Linked DNA regions of Homo sapiens. The protein of the gene in region 1 purifies or fractionates together with the protein of each later gene. This does not show direct contact. Each region holds a gene or a part of one and is shown on either strand. Other genes may lie near its edges.

Region 1 (3,872 bases):
TAGTGAATTGGGTGAAGTGTACTGCTCGTTTTCTTAATTTGAAAAGTGAGTTTAATTTAGTTTGCTTACTAATTTTTGATTTCTTCATTTTTTATAGGGTCTATTGCCGAAAACACAAGAAAACTGCACATAACTCCGAAGGTACATCATTTAGCCACGTTTCAGCCACTTTTCAGTTTCAAGAAGAAATTTGAGTACAGATTAGTGAATTATACTATATTAATTTTAACCATAAGACATATCTCAACATTCAGTACATTTAGAAGAATTGAGAAAAGTGTTAGGATAAACTAATGTGCATAGTGAAAAAGATCTGAACTTCTTTTTTTTTTTTTTTCCTGAAACGAAGTCTTGCTCTGTCGCCCAGGCTGGAGTACAGTGGTGTGATCACAGCTTACTGCAACCTCTACCTTTCAGGTTCGAGCAATTTTCCTGCCTCAGCCTCCTGAGTAGCTGGGATTACAGACGTGCACTGCAATGCCCAGCTAATTTTTGTATTTTTAATAGAGATGGGGTTTCACTGTGTTGGCCAGGCTGGTCTTGAACTCTTGACCTCGTGATCCACCTGCCTCAGCCTCCCAAAGTGCTGGGATTACAGGCGTGAGCCATCGTGCCCGACCAAGATCTGAACTTTTAAGAAAACTTTTACCCCAAAGTCCTTGTAAAGTATATGCTGAAAATCTATCTTTAGTAAGAAATTATGCTGGTGGCTGCGTGTTTCATTTCTTTGTGTTTTTTTTTTTTTGTGAGACAGAGTCTCGCTGTGTTGCCCAGGCTGGAGTGCAGTGGCGTGATCTTGGCTCACTGCAAGCTCCGCCTCCCGGGTTCACATCATTCTCTGCCTCAGCCTCCCGAGTAGCTGGGACTACAGGTGCCCGCCACCACGCCTGGCTAATTTTTTGTATTTTTAGTAGAGATGGGGTTTCACCGTGTTAGCCAGGATGGTCTTGATCTCTTGACCTCGTGATCCGCCTGCCTTGGCCTCCCAAAGTGCTGGGATTACAGGCGTGAGCCACTGCGCCCGGCCTCGTTTCTTTTCTGTTTTCTTTTTCTTTTTTTTTTTTGAGACGGAATCTCGCTCTGTTGCCCAGAGTGCAGTGGCACAATCTCGGCTCACTGCAACCTCTGCCTCCTGGGTTCAAGCGATTCTCCTGCCTCGGCCTCCTGAGTAGCTGGGATTACAAGCACCCGCCACTACGCTTGGCTAATTTTTGTATGTTTAGTAGAGACGGGATTTCACCATGTTGGCCAGGCTGGTCTGGAACTCCTGACCTCAGGTGATCCACTCACCTCGGCCTCCCAAAGTGCTGGGATTACAGGCGTGAGCCACTGTGCTCGGCCAGCTGCGTGTTTCTTTAAGGATGATAAATGGGATCCTTGATACTGTCATATTATAAATGATGTGAGCTTGGTAATAGTAGTACATTTTGTGATCACCAGGCTTTCTGTTATATTTTTATTCACATCTGTAGTACTTTAAAAAATGCCAATGTGTTAATAAGTAACCAAATTTAAAATACAAACTTTAAAAATTATTTAATAGTTTGTTTCTACTTAAATTTATATAAAACCAGGTTAGTCATGTTTATATATAGTTAGCCAAGTTGAACTTGGTCTGTAAAAAGTATGCGAAAACTCTGATACTGAGTTCTGACTTGTTTCAAACCTTTTCAAACAGATGGTTTTGATACTTTTACTAGCAATATAAAATGGCTTAGATGTAATCTGCGATTGTTCTATCCCTTCATTTAGATTAGAGATCTTTAAAATTTTTGTTCGCTTTTGAGAATATGTTGCTTAGAATTATAATGGTTTGAGCACTGTTGTTTTAGGAAGCTGTTTCTTTTATGAAGATTTACCTAATTATTGGTATTCGCATGTTAAAATTGGTGGCCCTTTTTGATCTCTAGATCTTGGCTTTTATAATACAAAACAATATAGTTTCCACTTCTGGACTCGAGATTAGTCCAGATACTTTAAAGTGTTGGTTAAAAATACAGTCGTTAGCAAAATCTAGTCTTTAAGGTAAACATGCTGGATAAATAATAATTTTTTTGAGGTGATAAAATATGACGGAAAAAACCTTAGTAGTGCTTTTCTTCTGTTTTCTCCTCACTGAATTCTAGAATTGAATTGGAAAATCCTTTGTGAAAGATTGAGTACGCTTTTCCACCTTCCATTATTTCAGATTTTAACAGTGCATTTATTTCATTCTCTTTAAGACTGTAGTGGCCCTATATGGTTTTTTTCTTAATCTATTTTTAATTTTTGTGAGTACAGAGTAGGTGTGTATTTATGGGGTACATGAGATATTTTGATACAGGCACACAATGTGAAATAAGTACATCATGGAGAATGGGGTATCCATCCCTATTTCAAACAATCCAAGTTAAGCTGAGGATTGAGACTATGTTATGCTGTATGTTAAGCTGAGAATTGAGACTCATGATCTGATGAATACAAGTATGAGCACACTGAGACAGGATATTTGAGATAATTAAGAAGGATGATTAATATATACTGATTATGTAGATAGCTCCCATTTTATTCCCTGGATTTCTGAAGCTGACAGTACCATCTAGTGGTAGGGAGAAGTCACTGCAAACTATATAAAGTAGAATAATTTTGGCCATGTTTTAGCACTGTGACACTTAATAGAGATCTAAATTCATACTTTTCAAGACAACTTTTCTTTTACTGTAACTGGCAGCATTATTATAACTTCAGATTTGTGCTACAATTAATTTGAATTTGGGATTCGATGTGTACGTCTATAGAACAATGGGCGGGGGGCTTGTATCATTTTTATATATAGTGTGTTTATACTCATTGTGGACCTTGAAAGAATAATTTTATAATTTAAAGTATTAAAGCTTTATATTTATTGATTTCTGGCTTTTATCACATTGATCTAGCTCAAATTTAGTTGATTTTGAGTGCTTTGTCAGAAACAGAACTTCCAATTATTCCATTGTTCTAATGGGAAACATATGTTCTCCTTTACGATCATGGTTTATGATGGGAGGTTATAGGATTGTATTTCAGGGACTGTCTTTTAAGAATTGTACTGCACTAAAAAAAAAAAAAAAAGAATTGTACTGCACTAGTCTCCAGAACAAAGATGAATTAATATCTATGGTAATGTCTTGGTCATTTGCCATCTGTGGCTCAATACTTACTTTGCTAATACTTAATATGATAAATGCTATTAATATATAATTCATTCTGCCATGTTAGCTTTATATAAAATGAGCTGTTTTGAAATATTAAATTTGAGAATAATTGCATAATATAGCAATTCAATTTTCCCATCACAAATAAAATATTATTGAATATTAAATACCTAAAACCTATGTCATCAGTTTTGCTTCAGGAAAAAATGGACTGTGAATTTGAAAAGCAATTTTAAAAATCTATATGGAGTTTATAACTATCATTATGTCACTAGGTTATTAGAATGCCCGTCCCAGGAACTGTATGTATTTACCTGTTAGTGGTGATGGGCTTAGATAAGTTGCCTATAAAATGATTCGAAACATATAAGAAAGCATTTCTGGGCTGGCACGGTGGCTCACTCCTGTAATCCCAGCACTTTGGGAGGCCAAGGCTGGTGGATCACCTGAGGTCAGGAGTTGGAGACCAGCCTGGCCAACATGGTGAAACCCCGTCTCTACTAAAAATACAAAAATTAGCTGGGTATGGTGGCACACATCTGTAATCCCAGCTACTCAGGAGGCTGAAGCGGGAGAATTGCTTGAACCCAGGAGGCGGAGGTTGCAGTGAACTGAGATTACGCCATTTGCACTCCAGCCTGGGTGACAGAGCAAGACTTGGTCTCCAAAATAAAAAGAAAGCATTTCTGATAAAAAAAA
Region 2 (3,872 bases), on another chromosome or scaffold:
GAGATCATCGCAGGTAAGTTGACGGTTGCCAGGTACGGTGTCTCTATAGAAATAGGAGACCTCAGCTTTAGACAAGGCTTTTCACTCCTGCTATGAAAAGGAACAGGGCAGGTGTGGTAGCTCACATGTATAATCCCAGCACTTAGGGAGTCTGAAGCAGGACTGCTTGAGACCAGGAGTTTGAGGCAGCAGTGAGCCATGATTGCACCATGCACTCCAGCCCAGGCCAAAAAGCAAGACCTCATCTGAAAAAAAAAAAAAAAAAAAAGGAACAGAAAACACGAGAAGACACTAAAATGAGAGACTAAGGGTGAAGGAGAGCTTCTGCTGTTACTGTAGTTTATTTTGCTTTCAAGATGGGCGGCCCCGGAATGGTGAGCCATGTCAGTGGAAGACACTGCAATGGTGGGAATCGTCTATATCTGCACTGTTCAATCCAGTAACCACTAACCACATGTGGCTAGTGAGCACTTGATATGAGAAACTGAATTTTAAGTTTTATTAGCTGAAATTTAAATTGCCATATATAGCTAGCAGCTACAAAACCAGGCAGGGCAGCCCCTCCAGCATGTCTGTAGACTGACGGACCCAGCTGTCCAAAATTTAGATGGGATGGTGGGAAGAGTGGAAGCTGACGGCTTCTATTTGTTCAATGCTTTCTAAATGAGGTTATATGCTGAGGGAAGGACGGGGTGGGGGAAGTGGGGGACAGGACACTAGGTGAAGTTCAAGGAGAAGTGAAAAGGAAGAAATGACTTCAGAGAGTGGAGAACATATTAAAGGAGGCAGTAACACTTCCGGGTCGAGTGTCATTTGAGATTTGTGGCAAATTTTAAAGTAACCCTGGTCAGAACTGCTGGCTTTTCTCTGGCAAACATCAACCACTTGGCCCTTCAAAGGTGGCCTCAAACTACTCTTTCAACCATCTCCTGACACTCCCTTTATGTTCCTCTGTGGTTTTCAATTTTCTTGGCTGCAGGATCTTTTTTACCCCCTTTACGTATTATATTCAGTACCCCAGTTAAAAAAAAAAAAAAAAAAAAAAAAAAAAAAAAAAAAGGACAGAGAGATGACAATGAGGACAAAAACAAGGCTGTTCTGGAGGAAACTGAGGTAGGCCTAAATTCCCCCACCAGCTTGGCCCCCTCCCACCAGCCCCTGAGGCACATCTAAGGAATCTCAGGGCTTGAAACCAAAGATTTACCCTGATGGGTGTTTCTCAGACTTAAATATGCTGACGATCAACATGTCTTGTTAAAATGTACATTCTGCTCCAGCAGGTCTGCAGAGGCCCAAGCTCTGCATTTCTAACATGTTACTGGGTTCTGCCACTGTGGCCACACCCAAAGCCAACTACTCACATTCTCCGCTCTGCTTGGTTTTGCCCGCTGTCGGACCCTCAGCTGCATATGCCTTTCCCCATTGTATTAGTCTGTTCTCACGCTGCTGTGAAGAAATACCCAAGACTGGGTAATTTATAAAGGAAAGAGGTTTAACTGACTCAGTTCTGCAGGGCTGGGGAGACCTCAAGAAACTTACGATCATGGCAGAAGGGGAAGCAAACACATCCTTCTTCACATGGCAGCAGCAAGCAGAAGAATGAACACCCAGCAAAAGGAGAAGCTCCTTATTTAAAATCATTAGGTCTCGTGAGAACTAACTATCACGAGAATACGATGGGGAAAACTGCCCCCATGATTCAATTATCTCCAGCTGATCCACCCACAACACCTGGGGATTATGGGTACAATTCAAGATTAGATTTGAGTGGGGACACAGCCAAACCATATCACCCATCTTCTGCAGCTGGGAGATTCTATCTAATCCTCAAGGTCCTCCTCATTGTTACCTCCTCTCAAGGATTCTCCAAGTCCCCCAGGCAGAAGTAATCATGATCCAGTCCTGGTTAGCACCTTGGCAGATCTCCTACCACTATATCCCCCTCTTGCTGTGCTCCAGCCATGCCAGCTTTCCTGCAGTTGCCATAACAAGCCAAGCAAACACCAGCCTCACGGCCTTTGCACCAGCTGACCCCTCCGCCTGAAATGCTCTTCTCCCAAACTGCCTCATGTCTAAGCCCTTCACCGACGTCATGCCTTTGCTCAATGTTCTGCACGGTCTATTTAATACCTTCCACCCCTAGCATTCTGGACACTGTAGTTATTTACACATATATTTATTTTACGTCTGTGTCCCCTGTAGTTATGCACAATTTGAGAGCAAGGTCCACAATATATTCATTTTGCATCTGAAGCATCTTGCAGTGTCTCCATATTTAAAGACAAGGTGAAATATCAAGTCAATAGCTGACATAACTTGCAACTAATGGATGTGAATTAGATTTCTGACACTTCAAAGAACCTAATCGCTAGTGGAAGTGTGAAAAATACAAGAAAGAACATAACAAAATAGATACAGAAAGCAAAGCAAGGGCACAAGGGTAATTCTAAAATGATAATTCATAACTCAAAAATACACAAGGATGCCAAGAACAACGATGATGTTCTACTACAAAACAGGATAAAGTAACCATTGATTTAGCATACAATCTGATAATTTGCTACCTCTTAGCATTTAAGATATTAAAAAAAAAAATAGGATAGGCATGGTGGCTCAAGGCTCTATTTCCAGCACTTTGGGAGGCTGAGGTGAGAGGATTGCTTGAGGTCAGAAGTTTGAGACCAGCCTGGCCAATACAGCAAGACCCTGTCTCTATTTTAAAGGATAGTAATAATGACAGCTAGCACATTAAGAACTTACCATGTGCCAGCAACTATTTAGGCATCTTACAAGTATGAATTGATTTAATCCATATAACAAACTTCCAAAGTAGGTACCATTATTACCTCCTTTTATAATCAAGGAACTGAGAGGCAAAATAACTTGTTCAAGGTCACATAGCCAACCGAACAAGGACTCCAGAGCTCTTAATCACTGTGCCCAGGTAGCTGAAAAACTATAAAGATTTAGAATTGTGAGGCTTAGCTTTAGGTAAGTTACTGTTTTAAAACTCCCTACAACATTTTTCTTAAATAAATTATGTACTGGTTCTCTCCCTACATGCTCTGAACATTAACAATGATTTTCTTTCTATGAAGGGAAAAACTGGTTTTCAAGTAGTTTTCTCCCATGTTAACAGCTAATACTCTGTCCATCCAAGAAGAACAGCTCTTAAGACTAAGAAAATAAAAGAACTCAAAGAAATGAATGATTCCTGAGCTTGGCCCAGGCAGCACAGCTCAGTGGTTAACGGTACCGTTGTGAATCCCAAGTACTAGGCACTGTGACCCAGGCGGGTAATCAATTCAGCCTATGCGTGTTCCCCCCCAAGAATTCTTCCTGGCTGCTGCGTGCTCTCCCCACTTTCTCACCCCACACTATCCCCATCTTATTCTTGCAAGGGTTCTTGATGGGGTTCCATGAACTCCCAAGTGGTCCATGGATAGAATTAAAAGGATCCTTGAACTTGCTAGGACATATCCTCTGTATTTTCATTTATTCCTTTAAAAGCCTCATTCTGAGGAGTCTATGGCCTTCACTGGACTGCCATAGGAGTTCCTAGTACAAAAAAGAAAAGAAATGAGGATAAAGGCAGACACAGGGAAATAAGCTAGGGGGGTTTAATATCAGTCTAGGAAAGAGGGAAACAAATCTGGTTAGGAGTGACAGAAGTGAGAATGGAAACGAAGAGACGGATTCAAGGAAACTCCCCAGGGATTCCTAACAAAATGGCATCTTTCACCTTCCTTCTACTTACCTTCCAAAAAAGAGGAATTGCCTCTACTTCCACTCATTCACTCCTTAAGTCTTTAAGCTTTCACAGCCACCCGCAATCAACCACAAGCACAGCCATGACTTTCAAGCACTTGGGA
Region 3 (3,872 bases), on another chromosome or scaffold:
TCTTTTTGTTGTTGTTTTGTTTTGAGGCAGAGTCTGACCCTGTTGCCCAGGCTAGAGTGCAGTGGTGCCATCTATGCTCGCTGCAGTCTCCACCTCCGTAGTTCAAGCTATCCTCCCACCTCAGCCTCTTGAATAGATGGGATTACAGGCATGTGTCACCACACCCAGCACATTTTTATATTTTTAGTAGAGATGGAGTTTTGCTATGTTGGCCAGGCTGGACTTGAACTCCAGGCCACAAGTGATTCCACCTGCCTCAGCCTCCCAGAGTGCTGGGATTACAGGCATGAGCCACCATGCTTGGCTGAGGATCTGCCTCTAAGCTTGCTGTTGGTAGGATTGTTAAGCTGGTTCTTGGTAGGATTCAGCTCCTCGTGGACTGTTGAACTGCAGGCCTCACTTCTTCACTAGCTGTTGTCTGGAGGCCTCCCTCAGTTATTTGTCATGTGGCCCCTCCATATGGCAGCTCACTACAGGACAGCTGGTTTCCATGAGAGGGGGAAAGATGGAAGCCAGACTTCTTTGATAACCTAATCTCAGAATTGGCATTTCATTGCTTTTGCTAAATGCTCTTCATTAAAAGTGAGTCGGTAGGTCCAGCCCACATTCAAAAGGAGGGGATTCCATAAGGGCATGAGGATCAGGAGGTGGGGTTTATTGGGTCCATCTTAGAGGCAGCCTGCCAAATGTCCTGAAAGTTTTTACTTGATTCATGTTTGCTAGGTACTTTAATCTCAAAAATTCCTCATTACACCTGCCTTTCTCCTCTGCACTTGCCATGTGAGCAGAGAGATACATAAAAGAGTACATATACTCTTATATGATGGTTCTACATATTTTCCTATACCTGTAACCAACTTCCAGTGATACCTTAAGATTCAGATGTGGATATATCTTCTCAGGTTTATCAGAAAGCGAGCAGAGCGCTCAATGAGTGTTGAAAGAATGAATATATTTGTGAATGAGGAATTTGTGGTTATTTTAAATAGTTCTGCCTAGTTTTACAAAGGAAGTAATTTTGAACTGCATCTTATCAAAGGGCAAGTAAAGTATTTTGCAGGCAGAGGTAATAACAAGTGCAGTCTCAAGAAGTTATGAAATAGCTTGGTATGTTCTGGAATGGTGAGAAGTTCAGTAAGAATGGCGTGAAGAATCTTTTATAGAGGAGCATGGGAAATAATGGTGGAGAAGCAGGTTGGGGCTAGATTGTTTCTGTGCTAAAGACTTGGGACCTAACTGTGAGCTAGTAGAGCACTTTAAGCAGGGGAGAGGGACTTTACTATATTAGTGTTTTATGAAGACAAGCTCTGTAGCTTTGCCGAAGAAAGGACTAGTGGGGAGAATCTAAAGACTATCCTGATTATGAAAGATTCTGAGGATTGAATTAAGCAATTGACAATAATTTTGAAGAAGAGTGTAAAGCCACTTGGCCTTTTTCTGGAATAGGTATGTTGGAGACTGCCAGCTGTCCCCTAATGTATTCTTTCTGTTTTTCTATATGAATGGATCTTTTTCTCACAGAATAAGGATTATATTTACTACTCTCCCTTATGTAACACTGTGAATAAATTTTGGTCAGTGGGATGTGAGCAAAAGGATCTGCAACTTCCCAGGTCATGCTCTTAAAAAAAGGGGATGTACCTTCAGATTTTTCTTTTCCTACTTCATACTGGCTTGAGTGTAGACCTGGTATTAGGCTGTCTTGAACTAGATAGGAGGTATAGCCTGAGGCTAGTAGACAAAAAAATGGAAGGATCCTGGATCCCTAAGGGCTTTGTGGAACAGAACCTTCAGCTCCTACTTTTAACAATAAAGAACCAAACTTAAGCTGGGTTATGCCATTATTTGGGGTTTTTATTACAGAGAGCCAAATATGATTCCTAGATCATTATAGGTGAGGTAAGATACAGGATTATGTAGGAATAAAAGAAACCTGAGATGTCTAGTTTGGAGGACCTAATGAATTGTGGGCTGATTAACTGGCATAAGGCTTCAGTGGGAAAATGATACATTTTTCCTTTTGGATATACTAATTTTGAGATGGCTTCTATTATTTTCTCTATTCCTAATTTGTACAGGCAATGAGCCCAGCTTTGATTTTGCATGATTCATTGCCCGCTTTGTTCCATGTGAAACATCTACAATCAAGCCCCTACTAATAATCCAAGTCCCTTCTGACCCCTTAATTTTCTTAACTGTAACAAATTTCTGGCTGTGAGTCTCCTCACTATCTGTAGTCCCTGTATCTTCTTTGAAGATAGAACATGTTGTTGAAGAGCTGAGTTTATTGACTCCTTCTGTGCCTTTCTTCTGTCATTGGAGAGCACCTCTGAATATATCGTTTCTGTCATTACCATGGCAACAGATTATTAGAATTATTTAATGATCCTGGCTTATCTCCTGATTTTTCTTGTAATAGTTTTAGCTTACTGTATTTCTGTCATATTACTGTTTTTAAAATTTATTTGTAAAGAATATTTTTGGGACTGAAGGCACTTACATATCTGACTATATGTGTCATGTGTTTTCATACATTTTAGCCCAAAGCACCAAAGGGAAAAAGTGCAGGACGGGAAAAAAAAGTCATCCATCCATATAGTAGAAAAGCAGCTCAAATTACGAGAGAGGCCCACAAACAAGAAAAAAAGGAAAAGTAAGTATCTTTTCATCATTTGTATTACTCGTTGGTAAAAAGCCCCTTTATACTTTTATCTTTCAAACATATATCCTTTCACAGTATTGTCTCCCTTTCATAAATATTTATTAAGTGTGTTCTGTATGCAGAGGGTGAAACTGAACAAGGACTCTACTCTTTTAGAGCTTACCTAAAACAGATAAGTAATTTATGTAGCAGTAGGTGATGAGTGCCATGAAAAATTTAAAAAGTTATGGGATGGACAGTGAGGGAGAAGTTGTTTTACGTGGGATAGTCATGGAAGCCTTCTCTGAAGAAGTTACATTTGAACAGAGAGTTGAAAAATGTGAGGTCTGTATATAAGGCATGTAGGTTAAAGTGCCCATGAGACATGTAAGAGGAGATATGGAATGGATAGTTAGATATGTTGAGTCTAGTGTTCAGAGAATAGGTTAGGGGTATTGACACAAATTTGGGAGCGATCAGCATCCATGTGGGATTTCAAGCCGTGAGACTGGATAGGATCAGTTCACCTAAGGAGTAACTGTTGACAGGAAAGAGAAGAGAGCCAATTACTGAGTTCAGTGGCCCTCTACCATTTAGAGGTTAGGAAAAGAAGGAGCATTCCACAAGTGAGACTGAGAAGGAGGAGAAAGAAGGCTGTTTCAAAGATTCCTTAAAATGAAGTGAAGTTCAAATAAACATCATCGTTTTGACTATTTTAGAATGCCCTTGCCATTTTCATGAATGTTAGATACATTTGCATACCAGATAATGGAAGCCAGTATATTTTTAAATGTTGATTCTTTGCTTAAGATAAGCTTTATATAGTAAAGGTTACCTGTTTCACAGTGATTTGGCTAGAAGGAAATAAGTGTTGTGATAGCAGAGTCAAATTTTCTTTATTTTCTGCAGGGTAGTTTTTTATTTTTTTCAACATAAAGATTTACTGTGATGATAGCAGTTTTGCTTTAGCACAGTAGTTTTCAAACTTCAGCTATTTATGCATCACTTTTATGATTTTTGCTGTATCTTTTTAATATGATTTATTAGTACTGTGATTTTGCAGTTTCTGCTCTCATATATATCAGTATTTTGCAAACTTAAGTACATGAAATACATCTGTAGAACTTATTAAAACTGTTTGTTCCAACCCCTAGAATTTTCTATTCTGAAGGTTTGGGTTTCTGGCTTAAGGGTTTCCACTTCCAACAAGTCTCCAGGTAATGCTGGTGCT
Region 4 (3,872 bases), on another chromosome or scaffold:
CCTCAATTGTAATATGTAAAATACTGGTATTGACAGGAAGCTATACCAATAATACCTTGGTTAAGAGGCTTCATGGATACTAATGTTTCTAATTCTCTCTTTAGTGTTCCACGTTACACTATAACAATAATAATAGTAGCTAGCGTTTATATAGTGCTTACTTTGTGCTAGGCATTATTTTAAGTGACTTGCACATAATCTAATCCTTATAGCAACATACGAGGTTAGTGTACTGTTACTTTCCTCCATTGTATGGACAGAGTTATTTTGCTCATAGTTACACAGCTAGCTAGTGAGTGATGGAATTCTCTGGCTCTGGATTTATGCATTTAACCATAATGCATAATCCTGCAGAGCTATCAAAGATGGGTGAGAATTAAGTCATTTGATTCCAAAATGAGAGAAAAAATTATCAAAGAGGAGGTGATATTCTCATGCAAAGCAGTTTTAGGAAGAATACATAAGAAAGTTGAGTATCTGGAAATTGATTCAAAGTATAAGCACCTTCATTTAGAATGTCTTCAGGTATCCTGAGGGCAGTGCTCCTCAGTTTGTGGCTACTTTTTATAGTAATTATGTTTCCAGTTTAAATTCCCATTTGTGATTTTATTCCTCTTTCTACATTGTTTATAAAGACTTCTCATGATTTCAACGTAATTTCTAGTGTTTCATGAAATTGATTGCTAATTCATTCAGGAAATTTCAGTCTAAGTAGGGTATGCTCTTTCATAGTAGAGATGATAAAGGGAGGAAGATTTCTACACAGTTTCAGGCCCTAGAAAGTATTTTCTGTATTAATATCGTCAACTTAGAAGGGGAAGAAAAGATAAGCTAGGATTGCCAACAGGAAAAATTATTTTTGTTCTAACTGTTGCATTATCTCAAGGAGCATATAATAGTATGGCCTCTAAAATGTGACAGACCTGGATTCAAATCCAACACTTTTAAAAGAAGTCCTTCCAAGTATACCCAGCTCTGCTATCTCCACCGTGTTCCTGGCTGAACTTAATCTCTGAGCTTTAGTTTTCTGATCTGTAAAATAGGTATAATTAAACTTAGACTTAAAAGATTAAAATATATAATGTAAATATAAATGGATTTATACAGAGTATATGTTTATTAAATGGCTACAATTAGCTGTTACCTCAAAGAAAGCATGGGGCATTCATCAAAGGTTATGATTGCCTCAGATCATTCACACATTTGGCTGTACTATGGAGCTTGCCTAGTTCCAATAATTTTAAAATGCATTTGTTCTGTTTGAGGGTTCTGAGAAGCTTTGCTAAAATATCATCTGAAAAAAATTGTGTATAATCTGTGTGCTTAAAAACTACATTGCCGTGTCACATAGCAAGTTTTCTAAAAACCTACAAAGTAATGCTGATCAATAGTGAAAAAAGGATAATTAATTTTTATTTACAAATATATGATTCAGACTTATAATTTATAATATGACTTTATACTTTTCATGTTTTCCTTAGTTCCTTTGTATAACATAGGGGAGAAGAAAAGGTAACATACATCATTTTTCTACAGATCTCTTCAACATGTTAGAAAATAATAGGTGATTTACTCATTTATTCATTGACCTTGAAACTTTTAGAATATGTCATAGATGCAACTTTAGAAAGTATGTGTCTTAAGATTAATAGCTAGTACATTTGTATACAACCAGGTTGCCTCTTTCAGGAAAAAAGTATAATTCAAATTTATTATTACAACAGATATCTTCTTTTTTTCTTCCCCAGAAAAATTATGGAAATCCTTTTTTGAATATGGGACTTTAAATTAGTTCAGCTTTTGTTCACTGTATTCCAAAAATTTTATATATGCCACTTACAGAGTTATTAATCTTTTAAATTAGGGAGTGAAGCCATAATTTCAGCTGCGTTCTGCTTCCGTAGCTAAACGGAAAGATGCTCAACTTACGTGTTGAACTGTATGACCCTGGGCCAGTTTTTTAAATCACTTTGAGTCTCAGTTTTCTTATCTGTACCTACCTCACAGAAGAATTAAGTAAGCAGATATTGTAAAGTATTTAGTTCAGTGTCTTGCCCATGGGAATAACAGAGGTTATATTAACTAAATCATCCATATTAATTGTTATTATTTTAATGATTGTGAGGTTAAACAAAATAGTTCATATGAATCCTCTAAGACAGTGCCTGGTATGATATGTGCTCCATTATATATTAGGTTTGTTCTCAAATGTGTATACTTTCATATGTTTATACACCTTTTAAAAAGGTATTCATTGTGTTAATGGGTTCAATATCCATAAAAAAAAGTATGGCAAATAGTGACTAACTTTTAAGAAATGATGTAGCTAATGTATTTTTTTCTTTAGCTTCCAGAGCAGTTGTAGCGCAGCATGTTGCTCCACCTCCAGGAATAGTGGAAATAGATAGTGAGAAGTTTGCTTGTCAGTGGTAAGTGGTTTATTTCTATTAAGGATTTATCCTTGGGAGGAGTAAAGCAAAGAAAAAAAGGAAATGTATTCTACAGACATCCAGAATGTTTTGTTCTGTATTCCTTTTTAGTTAGAGTAGAATATCATTTACACAAAGAAAGGACACTTTAAAATCCCCTTGTATATTGGAATAATTTGAAAGAAAAATATTCATCAGAATTTTCAGAATTAAAATAGTATGACTAGAATGTCATTAAATTACACCATTTAACTTTTTTCAGAGTAAAATTTGTGTTAAAAAGTTATCTTTCACTTTGTAGAAAGTACAGTTTGTCAGGTTACAAAATTTGTTCTTCTAAAATTAACATTTTGTTAAAACTGAATTGGACTGACCTTAAGAAAATAAAAGCAGGTGTTTTAAAATGTCTCTTCTCTTCCATCTAAAACAAAACTTCTTATTCTTTAATAATTTTTGGGTTTGTAATAGTAGACGGACATTAATCAAATGATAGAACAGAAATAAGCAGCTTGACAATAATATTTCCTTGAAAAGATTGTGTAGTCCTATCTGCACCACTTTCTGAAAAAAAGCAAATGAAGAGTTTTAAAAATTTCACTTGTTATGGATAGTTGCCTCAACATTAGTATGAAGTTCGGCTTAAATTCTTTAGAAGATTAACAGATTGAATTACACAATCACTTTCCAATGATATATCACTTTAAAAATTTCTTGATCACTTTTCTGCCATTCACTAACATTATTTGTCTCCCATTTCATGCTCCTGTCACTCTTTGTTCCGTATTTTTGGTGCTTTCAATACATTTTTGTTCCTATGACAGTTTTCTCCAGACTTTTCTACTTTGCTTAAATCGGGTTTATGGTTTTAAATATCTCTAATTGTTTGCTTTTTCCTCACCTTCTATATTTTTACACATTGGCCCCTTACACTTGAATCTTTTCCAGTAATATTTGGAAATGTTGTTTGTCTTCTACATTGCAACCAAAATGAAGTTTTTATATCTAGTCTTTTTGAAATTTCAGTACAGACAGGATTATGAAAGTTGGAAAGAATACACACCATAACCACTATAAAATGTGTATGTGTTAAGCATAGATTTGGTCTTATAAATCCCAGTTGCACGTTTCTGCTATTTCTTGGAGAGGGGGAAGAGAATCATTTTACAGTTTTTTTTTTAAATCATAATTACTATTTGATTTAGTTTTTCAGAAAAACTAAGTTTAGCCTATTATACATAGTGAGTTATGGAAAGAGCCTATCAGGGTAATCAGGCCTCCAATCCCAATTTATAGGTAAAGGTCATTTTAAGAAAAAGACAAAATGAGGTTTGAATTAGTTTGTAATGGATTACAAATTAAAACTGTTTTGAAATGGGGAAATGGGAGTGTGCAGCATGGAAAGTGTCATTGTTTTAGGAAGTAGCTGAAAAGCTTGGATAAGTT

Evidence for each region. Proteins that work in one complex are often made in the same cells at the same time.
Region 2: the proteins of PHF6 (region 1) and PIP4K2A purify together in Homo sapiens (affinity purification with mass spectrometry, with the first as the bait; one large-scale study listed by BioGRID). This does not show direct contact.
Region 3: the proteins of PHF6 (region 1) and TMA16 purify together in Homo sapiens (affinity purification with mass spectrometry, with the first as the bait; one large-scale study listed by BioGRID). This does not show direct contact.
Region 4: the proteins of PHF6 (region 1) and ARID2 purify together in Homo sapiens (affinity purification with western blotting, with the first as the bait; one study listed by BioGRID). This does not show direct contact.

Annotation. Positions count from the first base shown.
Region 1 is NC_000023.11:134,393,812-134,397,683, forward strand, and holds part of PHF6 (PHD finger protein 6), read left to right. Parts: intron 1-97; coding exon 98-141; intron 142-3,872.
Region 2 is NC_000010.11:22,704,404-22,708,275, forward strand, and holds part of PIP4K2A (phosphatidylinositol 5-phosphate 4-kinase type-2 alpha), read right to left. Parts: intron 1,023-3,872; exon of another isoform or gene 1-1,022. UniProt on the Homo sapiens protein: Catalyzes the phosphorylation of phosphatidylinositol 5-phosphate (PtdIns5P) on the fourth hydroxyl of the myo-inositol ring, to form phosphatidylinositol 4,5-bisphosphate (PtdIns(4,5)P2). Has both ATP- and GTP-dependent kinase activities.
Region 3 is NC_000004.12:163,504,493-163,508,364, forward strand, and holds part of TMA16 (translation machinery-associated protein 16), read left to right. Parts: intron 1-2,540; coding exon 2,541-2,653; intron 2,654-3,872. UniProt on the Homo sapiens protein: Involved in the biogenesis of the 60S ribosomal subunit in the nucleus.
Region 4 is NC_000012.12:45,844,509-45,848,380, forward strand, and holds part of ARID2 (AT-rich interactive domain-containing protein 2), read left to right. Parts: intron 1-923; exon of another isoform or gene 924-1,032; intron 1,033-2,347; coding exon 2,348-2,429; intron 2,430-3,872. UniProt on the Homo sapiens protein: Involved in transcriptional activation and repression of select genes by chromatin remodeling (alteration of DNA-nucleosome topology). Required for the stability of the SWI/SNF chromatin remodeling complex SWI/SNF-B (PBAF).